3 separate regions of the Homo sapiens genome follow, and all the other regions are reported to be linked to region 2. Evidence: microRNA targets listed by miRTarBase, many of them from high-throughput screens and not tested one by one. Region 2 holds a microRNA gene; each other region holds the end of a gene's coding sequence.

The links. The annotated mature microRNA hsa-miR-6719-3p reads UCUGACAUCAGUGAUUCUCCUG and lies in region 2 at 1,484-1,505, shown strand. An mRNA with a match to its seed (bases 2 to 7 or 8) in the 3' UTR can be bound and repressed. Matches are read on the target gene's strand: a 7mer-m8 pairs with bases 2 to 8, a 7mer-A1 pairs with bases 2 to 7 and ends in A, and an 8mer does both.
Region 1: the mRNA of TRIM63 is a reported target of hsa-miR-6719-3p. Seed matches in the 3' UTR shown: 7mer-A1 at 1,065-1,071.
Region 3: the mRNA of ADPRH is a reported target of hsa-miR-6719-3p. Seed matches in the 3' UTR shown: 7mer-A1 at 2,257-2,263.

The regions. Positions count from the first base shown.
Region 1 is chr1:26,049,333-26,052,558 of GRCh38, reverse strand. It overlaps TRIM63 (tripartite motif containing 63), which reads left to right. Exons shown (of 9, transcript NM_032588.4): 9 at 676-1,258. The coding sequence ends at 686. It overlaps LOC105376910 (a long non-coding RNA gene), which reads right to left. Exons shown (of 2, transcript XR_001737948.2): 1 at 2,514-3,226; 2 at 1,905-2,202. Among named protein-coding and RNA genes, the nearest start is that of SLC30A2, 4.8 kb to the right of the region's middle.
Region 2 is chr19:39,827,977-39,831,230 of GRCh38, reverse strand. MIR6719 (microRNA 6719) reads left to right here and starts at 1,429; the gene lies at 1,429-1,515. It overlaps DYRK1B (dual specificity tyrosine phosphorylation regulated kinase 1B), which reads left to right. Exons shown (of 11, transcript NM_004714.3): 3 at 448-567; 4 at 668-856; 5 at 1,204-1,351; 6 at 2,648-2,934.
Region 3 is chr3:119,587,575-119,590,828 of GRCh38, forward strand. It overlaps ADPRH (ADP-ribosylarginine hydrolase), which reads left to right. Exons shown (of 5, transcript NM_001125.4): 5 at 1-2,371. The coding sequence ends at 304. Among named protein-coding and RNA genes, the nearest start is that of PLA1A, 8.7 kb to the right of the region's middle.

The DNA of each region.
Region 1 (3,226 bases), not on the chromosome of region 2:
AGGGGGGCGGAGCTTGCAGTGAGCCGAGATCACGCCACTTCACTCCAGCCTGGGCAAAAGAGTGAAACTCCATCTCAAAAAAAAACAAAGAAAAGAAAAGAAAAATGGGACATGCCCTTGCCAGTTTGCCCAGCCCCACCACCACCAGTCCCGCTTGCTTCACTCATTCATGTTATCTGCTGGCTCCTTGTAGGCATCTGAGTTTGCCAGCCTGGCAGAGTTTGATTAGGAGCCTGGGTTCTGAATCACAGCAGCTCACAATTTCTCTGAGTCTTGGGCTACTCATCTGTGTATGGGGGTCTAACAGTACTGACGTCAAAAGGTTGTAGTGGGAAGTGAATAAGATAATCGTTTAGCACGGTGTCTGATGCATAGGAAGGACGTTTGCTAATTAGCACATGCTTGCAAATGTTATTTTTCAAACCACAGGTACTGAAACTAAATTCCAATCCAGTTGAAAACTATAGGTAGTCTTTTGGAGTTTTGTACTGATGTACAATCCATAATATTTGGGCAGCTAAATTCTATTTTGGTTTTAAAAGGAAGAGACCGGGAGGAATTGGAGTTTGATGTTTTATTCAAACTCCTGTTTGAATAAACAGTAGCTTGGTAAGCCTTGGATCCTCCTGAGTCCCTGTCTCACCCCTTGCCTCTGTATCTTTTTCTTCATTTCAGGACACCAGTAAGGAGCTGGATGAATGAGAGGCCCCCAGATGCAGAGAGACTGGAGAGGGTGGGGAGGGGCCCAGCGGCCTTGGTGACAGGCCCAGGGTGGGAGGGGTCGGGGCCCCTGGAGGGGCAATGGGGAGGTGATGTCTTCTCTCTGCTCAGAGAGCAGGGACTAGGGTAGGACCCTCACCGCTGCGTCCAGCAGACACTGAACCAGAATTGGAAACGTGCTTGAAACAATCACACAGGACACTTTTCTACATTGGTGCAAAATGGAATATTTTGTACATTTTTAAAATGTGATTTTTGTATATACTTGTATATGTATGCCAATTTGGTGCTTTTTGTAAAGGAACTTTTGTATAATAATGCCTGGTCGTTGGGTGACCTGCGATTGTCAGAAAGAGGGGAAGGAAGCCAGGTTGATACAGCTGCCCACTTCCTTTCCTGAGCAGGAGGATGGGGTAGCACTCACAGGGACGATGTGCTGTATTTCAGTGCCTATCCCAGACATACGGGGTGGTAACTGAGTTTGTGTTATATGTTGTTTTAATAAATGCACAATGCTCTCTTCCTGTTCTTCAAAGGAGCCGGGGTTTCATTCAGCCTTTTTTTCCTGGAGATGAGGGTTGAGTGTGAATGAACAGGACCCCTGGTAGGAGGCAATGGCAGGGCTAGGCTTAGGTCCCAGTAAAGGAGTTCTCGACACCACCATTTCCCAATGTGGACTCCATGGAAAGCCAGCCCTGAGCTGGTCCTTCAAGAACAGGTTCAATGTGTTGTTGCTCTGGTTCTCCAGAAAACAGAGCCTGAGGCAAAATTTAAATGCTTTAGTTGCAGGTTATAGGGACTTCCCCGTGCTCACTGAAGGCTCACTGAAGGCTCACTGAAAATCATCAAGAAGAGGCAGATTAAGGCTGGGCAGGTGCAGTGGTTCATGCCTGTAATCCCAGCACTTTGGGAGGACAAGGAGGGCAGATCATCTGAGGTCAGGAGTTCCAGACCAGCCCGACCAACATGGTGAAGCCCCGTCTCTACTAAAAATACAAAATTAGTTGGGCGTGGTGGCGCATGCCTGCAATCCTAGCTACTTGGGAGGCTGAGGCATGAGAATTGCTTGAACCCAGGAGGCGGAGGTTGTAGTGAGCCAAGATCGCACCACTGCACTCCAGCCTGGGCAACAAGAGTGAAACTCCGTCTCAAAAAAAAAAAAAAAAAAAAAAGAGGCAGATTAATAGGAGAAAAGGCAAACAAATACACAAATTTATTTGACCATGGTTTTATGAGATACAAGAACCTTCAGAATGAACACCCAAAGATACAGGAGAAACTGTCCATTTTTAGGCTTCAGTTCAACAAAGTATGGATGGCCGTGTAGAAATACGGTTGGACAAAAGAGCCTGATCTAATGCTGATAGACTGAGTGGGGAACCCAGCGAGGCCTGTCTGTCAAGATTCTTTTCGGCCTCTCTGCGCAGCATTCCTTCCTTCCTCATATGGCGCAGGACTCTCTCTGGATGGGGGTCTTCTGACCTACAATCAGACAAAGGTCAAATAATTTCCTATGGCCAATTTTACACAGAAAGAAAGAGGAAAGTTAGAGTAATATTTTTAGGTTTTAGGGCAGGCTTTTGGTGAAGAGGGATTGTAGTTTTTATAGCTAGCCTTGGGGGAGAATAAGGGACCAGAGACAGGAGGGCAGGAGAAGGTCAGAGAGAAATGTTTGCTTCCGAGGGAGGCCTTCATTTCGGGGTATTGTTTTCTGAGACCCTATGAGGCACACTCCCAAGGCCAACAGAGGGAAGGAAAATGGAAGCGAGGCAGGCAAGGAGGGAAGCAAGTACAAGGTGTCACGTGGCTGAGCTGGCCACAGCTTCACCAAAGACTGGGCTGGCTGCTTAGTCATGTGAGATGTTTCCAGCAGGCCATAAAGAACAGAACATGATTCAAAGTCCTTCATCTAGAGAAGAAAAAAAAAAAGAAATGTGTCTGCTGGCTCCTTCCTGTCTCCCGCCTCCCATACTGTTCATTCCACCTTGACTTCAGGTGGTGCAGGTGCAGGGGCAGCAAGGTCACCTGCCCCATTGGGTGGTACTTCAGCTGAGTCTGGAGATGGTGGGAGGTGCCAGGGCCTCCATGGTCCAGTTGGGTTGGACAAGGGTGGGGCAGCTGCTGTCTCCACCTCAGTGAACACAATGGGGCCAGGCTGGTGCCCAGACTCACGCCAGGAAAGGCCAAGTCAGCCACCGGCAGTAGGGGATGAATTCATGACTGTGGCCCAGTAGCATCCAGGATCTCCATGAGCAAGAAGCCAAGGGCCTGGAGAGAGGCAAGGCTGAGCGAATCCGAGGCAGCGCATTCACCGGGGCTGATACACCAGAGACTTACAACTTTGAGGAGCATTGCAGAGCCTGTTCCCCCTTTTAGACATTCAGATCACAGTAGCAAATTAAGGGGTCCGAGTCGTCCCACCGTAAAGAAAGCGAATTAACTTTAGATGAGGACCATCAAGTTCATGGTGCTTGGAATGCTGCCTGACCCTAAGTCTTTCATTTTG
Region 2 (3,254 bases):
GGTGAAAGAACTGTGCAAAGAGTTGGTGGGAGTATGGGTTGAGGCCCAAGGGATGAGGGTAAATTGAGATAGAGGTACTTCAGAGGGTACCCAAAATGGCTGGCTTCAAAGTGAAGAATGGGGAGGAACAGAGCCCAGGTTTTCCATATGATCTCTCCCTCTGAGGTTCAGAAAGGAGTAAAGGTGAGGGGTGAAAGGTCAGAGTTCACTCATTCACACCACAGATCTCTAAGAGCATCCATTGTGTGCCAGGCCCTGCTGTAGGCACTGGAGGTATAGTAAGAACAAGAGAAAGTCTCAGCCCTGGGGGAGTTTCTTTCCTAGACAGGTGGAACAAATACAGACAGCAACCAAATACATGATGTGCCAGCAGCCCTTACAGTTCTTCCTCTTGAGGTCGGAGGTGAAGGCACGTCCTCAGTGCCCACCCCTCACCCTGCCCTGCAGGTATTGCCTGATGTGCGGCTACTGCCTCGGAGGCTGCCCCTGGCCTTCCGGGATGCAACCTCAGCCCCGCTGCGTAAGCTCTCTGTGGACCTCATCAAGACCTACAAGCACATCAATGAGGTGGGCAGGGGCTGGGGGATCCTGGGCTGGGTGCCGAGGGTCTTGTCTGCTGGCATGAGTCACTCACCAGTCCCCATCTCCTGGCTGGCTGGCTGGGCAGGTATACTATGCGAAGAAGAAGCGGCGGGCCCAGCAGGCGCCACCCCAGGATTCGAGCAACAAGAAGGAGAAGAAGGTCCTGAACCATGGTTATGATGACGACAACCATGACTACATCGTGCGCAGTGGCGAGCGCTGGCTGGAGCGCTACGAAATTGACTCGCTCATTGGCAAAGGCTCCTTTGGCCAGGTGTGGGACACCCCCCACCACCCTGATCCAAGGCCCCACTAACATTGATCACACACCCAGTGGTTCAGTGGCTTCAAGTCCCATGCTGGGCCACTCACCCTAGCCCACTTAGTTTCCCTGTGCCTCAGTCGCCTTTTCTGTAAAACAGTTTAAATAACAAGACTCAACATAAGGTCGTTATGTTATTTCACATCCAGTGTTTACACCAGCGCCTGACTAATGGTGCGCACTCAGCTGCGAAGTATGCATAGTGTTCTTGGTGGGTCTCCTTGCCTGGAGGGAGAAGAATGGTGCCTGGCTCTGCCCTGCTCCCACCCCTTTCTTCGTGACATGCCCTGCCCCAACAGGTGGTGAAAGCCTATGATCATCAGACCCAGGAGCTTGTGGCCATCAAGATCATCAAGAACAAAAAGGCTTTCCTGAACCAGGCCCAGATTGAGCTGCGGCTGCTGGAGCTGATGAACCAGCATGACACGGAGATGAAGTACTATATAGGTGAGGCCTGGGACTGGCAGGGCTGTGGGCACCTGGGATAGCGGGAGCTGGAGCCAGTAGGGATGGGTCACACCCCCGCCCTACTCTCAGGAGGAGGCTGATGTCTTCAGAGCAGGGTTTGGTCTGTGCTTCTCTGACATCAGTGATTCTCCTGCTGCTTTTATGATTTTTGTCCTATTTTCTTGGTAATGGTCAGAGGTTACTGAGTGCTCACCAAGGGCCAGGCTCTCTTGGAAGCACTTGGAAGTTAACTCACCACAGCCCATAAGGGGAAGGGCATTATTAACAACATCTTGAAGATAAGAAACCTGGGCTTCCATCCTAGTTTCTTCTTCAATAAAACAAACAAAACGGGCTGGGCACAGTGGCTCACGCCTGTAATCCCAGCACTTTTGGAGGCCGAGGTGGGCGGATCATGATATCAAGAGATCGAGACCATCCTGGCCAACATGGTGAAACCCCGTCTCTACTAAAAATGTGAAAAAATTAGCTTGATGTGGTGGTGCGCGCCTGTAGTCCCAGCTACTCAGGAGGCTGAGGCAGGAGAATCGCTTGAACCTGGGAGGCGGAGGTTACAGTGAGCTGGGACCACGCCACTGCACTCCAGCCTGATGACAGAGCGAGACTCCATCTCAAAAAAAAAAAAACCCAAAACAAACAAAAAACCAAACCTAATAACAACAACAACAGTTACAACAACAACAAAAAAAAACGAAGAAAGGAAAAAAGAAACTCAGGCATTCAAGTGCTGTCACTTGCATGAGGTGGCAGTTTGTACTAATTGAGCTATAATTTGATGAGGTCGTGGACTCCAGAGCTGTTACTCTTAACATCTGTGCCAGTCTTTCTCCTCCCTTAAACTGATTCCTGCTCATGGACATAAACATCACAACATAATCATAAACAGCAAGTGGATTTTAAAATGGTTTCGTTTGAAAGGAAAACGTATATCCTTAAAGTAAACGGAAAACCAGTGTCCTTTGCCACAAAAATGAATACAAGGGAGATGAAAGCAGTGTTATGAAATTAAATGAGGAAGTGTAGAATGTGTTAGAGCTAGTAGTAACTAATGAAACTTTCTCTTTGGTTTAATTGGAGGGTTTGACAGAGACTTGGAAAGAGCATTAACTTCCTGTGTGAATCTAGTTGTTAGATAAAAAGATTTTGACTAGCAGATGGTACCCGTGGGGACAGCACAATGTGGCTAGTAATCAAAGAGCGTTGTATGACCCCAGGCCACCACCTGCCCTCTCTGAGCCGTTTCTTCTCTGGCCCATTTCCTCCCCTCCCCCGCAGTACACCTGAAGCGGCACTTCATGTTCCGGAACCACCTGTGCCTGGTATTTGAGCTGCTGTCCTACAACCTGTACGACCTCCTGCGCAACACCCACTTCCGCGGCGTCTCGCTGAACCTGACCCGGAAGCTGGCGCAGCAGCTCTGCACGGCACTGCTCTTTCTGGCCACGCCTGAGCTCAGCATCATTCACTGCGACCTCAAGCCCGAAAACATCTTGCTGTGCAACCCCAAGCGCAGCGCCATCAAGATTGTGGACTTCGGCAGCTCCTGCCAGCTTGGCCAGAGGGTAGGGGGCGGCCCGGTCCTGGGAGCACGGCTAGTAGTTTGGGTGGGGCAGAGCCAACGGGAGGCTTAGGGGCGGGGCTTGGCTGGGATGGGATTATTAGGAGCCGTGGGAACTGAGGGATAATGCTTGGGGTGGGGGTGTGAATATACTGCCCACTAGGATGGGAAGGGTGAAGCCTGAGGGGCAGGGCCCATTTTGAAGCTGCCAGATGTGAACAGGGTGAAGTTGGGTTGGGTTTGAGCCAGGGGTGCTGCCTCGCTAAGTTTTTGTCTTCTCTGTTCTTAAAGCTGAGGATGGAGGTGGAAGGCTTCAACTTTGCA
Region 3 (3,254 bases), not on the chromosome of region 2:
CTACACCTCCCTGAGCTACTCTGGCTGGGGTGGCAGCAGTGGGCACGATGCCCCCATGATTGCCTACGATGCTGTTCTTGCTGCAGGAGACTCCTGGAAGGAGCTTGCCCACCGAGCCTTTTTCCATGGTGGAGACAGTGATTCTACAGCTGCCATTGCTGGCTGCTGGTGGGGAGTTATGTATGGTTTTAAAGGAGTGAGTCCCTCCAACTATGAGAAACTAGAATACAGAAACCGGCTGGAAGAGACAGCTAGGGCTTTATATTCTCTCGGGTCAAAAGAAGACACTGTAATTTCCCTTTAGGGAGACGTGATGTTCACTTCTGATGGATTCTTCTTTTGTGTATTTCCTTTTCTGCTATTTCTTTTCAGTTTTTCCAAAGTCAAGAGTCTTAACCTTGTACTCAGGGAATTTTGAGATAACAAGTCCCTTGGGCACCTTAAGCTCAGTTTTTTCAGGCTCATCCTGTTCTTCCAGAATCTATCCCTTTTCTTACACTGAAGAGTCCTTTAGCTCAATTGATAGGGTCAGCGTCTCGCAAGCAAAAAATCTCATGACCTCATATTTGAGTCTTCATTTTCATCATCTACTTGTTCTAAAAGTTTTTTCTGTTTGTCTCAAGTTGGGTTCCCACAAAGTGGACTTTGAGACAAAGATCTGAATGCAAGCAGTTTATATGGGAGATGATTCCAGGAAATACCGATATGAGAATGGGGAAATGAAACCAGGAAGGGAAGAGAGCTAGTATGGGGTATGTTAATGAGCAGGTTTCCACTGTGGGCGGTTGGCACTCTGCCATCTGAGTCCTCTGCCTAAAGCATTCCTCAGAACTGTCCCATTTGAAGGGCAAGCAAACCTGGGGTATTTATCCACTGACTTCCATCTGACACTGGTTGAGGACCACTGCCAGGGATGCTAACTCCCTGGTAATTCTTGGCTTACCCTTTGTACAAACCAAACCTTAGTGTCTTCAGGTAAAGACTCAGAGATACTTGCAGGGGCAAGCTGTAAAGGGCATGGGAACAGTGAGGGACATATGTGGGGTCCTAACAATATCTGCTAGGCTGGTCTACCTCCTAAATATACTCTGAATCTATCACCTCTATTGCCTTCTTGCACTGAGGATTTTTCAGCTGGATTTCTGCAATCCAAGCTACTCAAGTCTGGGAGATGCTGCTCTGAGCTGCTCTCAGTACTCTCCTCATCATGGCAGTTAACACATTACCAATTTTGTTATTGTCTGTTTGCTTGTTTGCATTATTTCTAAACAGAACCTAGCACAGTGCTTGGGCAGCCAATAGGCATTAATCAGTATCTATTGAGTGTTATGAACTAGCCTCCTAGCTCGTGCTTCCCTCATTACCCTCCAGAGTTATGTTTACGAATAACAAATTGACCATGCTAAACTAATCATGTTCCAATGAATACATCACCTTTCTTCATTTCTTGATGCTCTTCCCAATCCTTGTCTACCTGATAATAAATTCTTACTTGTCCTTCAAGACCCAACTCAGATAGATAGAGCTTCCTGAGTGAAACCTGCTTTGATTGTTCAGGCACTTGGCCACCTTCTCCTCACTCCTCCCACAGCCTTCTGTCTTGGCCTTGTCATCACATCAATCCTGTTGTGTGGTGCTGTGTGTCTTCTGGGTCAGTCCTAGGCACATGCTGCCCAGCACATGTCCACCTGGGAAATGAGATGCCATCGTCACATTCATTTGGTCACCCTCAGTCCAGCCAGTGGGCTTGCTCTCATTTGGCCTGTTCTCAGGGGTGGGAAGGAAGAGCGTCCCTTCCTTCTCCTTTTGAGAAAACCACAGAACTATGACTCTCATGATTTTTCCTTTGTGAAATCCCTGGTTTTCAGCTGGAAGCGGTGGGTAAATGAGGTCTGATGATAGCAGTCCTGCCACCTTCTAGTTCATCCCATAGGAATGTTTTTCCAAGTCCTTCCAGTCTTTTTAGAACGTGGTGGAGGAGGGTTGTGTGTGCCCCAGGGGGTCGGGGGTAGGGGATGCAGGGAGGATCTTAGCATTTGTTGTTTTCTAGTGCAGGGCTTTAGCCACAATTGTAAACAACAGGAAAAGGCTCTTTAGAGATCCTATTAGATTTGCTTTGCCGATTGTCACTCTTCATCACAGGCACATTTCAAAAAGAGGTTAGACTTTCAGACTTCTTTTTTCTCAAACCTCAAAACTTCCACCCCAAACTTCGCTCTCAGCTGGTGACTTTGCTTCTTTATGTGTGTGTATGTGTGTCAGAGAAAGAGAGAGAGAGAGAGAGAAGGGAGGATGAGAACGAATGGGGGGAAGAGATAAACTTTATGCATAACATTAGGGTAAATCAATAAAGATGGTCTGACACATCGTATGAATTTGCCATTCTTATCAAGTTAATCTATGCATATTGAACAACAGAAGAGGTCATATGTGACATTTCAAATGATGCTTTTTGGACCTGCTGTGTGATGCTGCTTCATTTGCTTTCTTTGTTAGCCAAGATTGCTACATGTTGTCTAGAAGTCTTGGCAATAGTTGTTTTTTGTTTATTTGTTTGTTTGTTTTAGATCTATAAAATTAGCATTGACCTCATTCACTCTTCTTCAAGATTCTCCAACCACCACATTCTCCATTTATTCTTCTTTCTGTACCTATCTGGAGCGAGTAAACTTGCATCTTTTTAAAACAGCCACTGAGCTACTAGGACATTGAGGGGAAGGAATGGGGATTAACTTCACAATCCAACCAGCCTCCCCGGCCAGCTTCTCAACAATGGCTGCCTGGGGTCTCACTGAGGATCCACAGGTCATTTAGATAGGGACTGGGGAGCAGCCTACCATCATTTGTTTTACTCTCTGGGCTTGGGGGTTGAGAAGAGTAATTCCTAGGGAGTAGGTGAAGCTCTTTCCATTTGGGGAAGGATAAAGAACAGAGGAAGAGAATATTGCTGTGTGTCAGATCATTCACAACAACCCATTAATAGATGAAGAAATTGGGCTCAGAGAGGTTGCCATCTGTCCAAAGTCACACAGGATGAGATGGAACTGGGGTTTAAAACCAGGTCTGTTTATCCTACAAAGGATGGAAAAGAACCAAACCAAGGTGCTTTTCCCAGTCTCATGCAGCACTCACACTTCTGACACCCAAAGGTGTGAGAGTTGTTTCTCCATGCACCAAGCAAGTTTCTAACAGACACCAAGTGAGTGTCCTCTAATTCAGTTCCGATGCTATCTTCTGGATGATAGCATCAGATT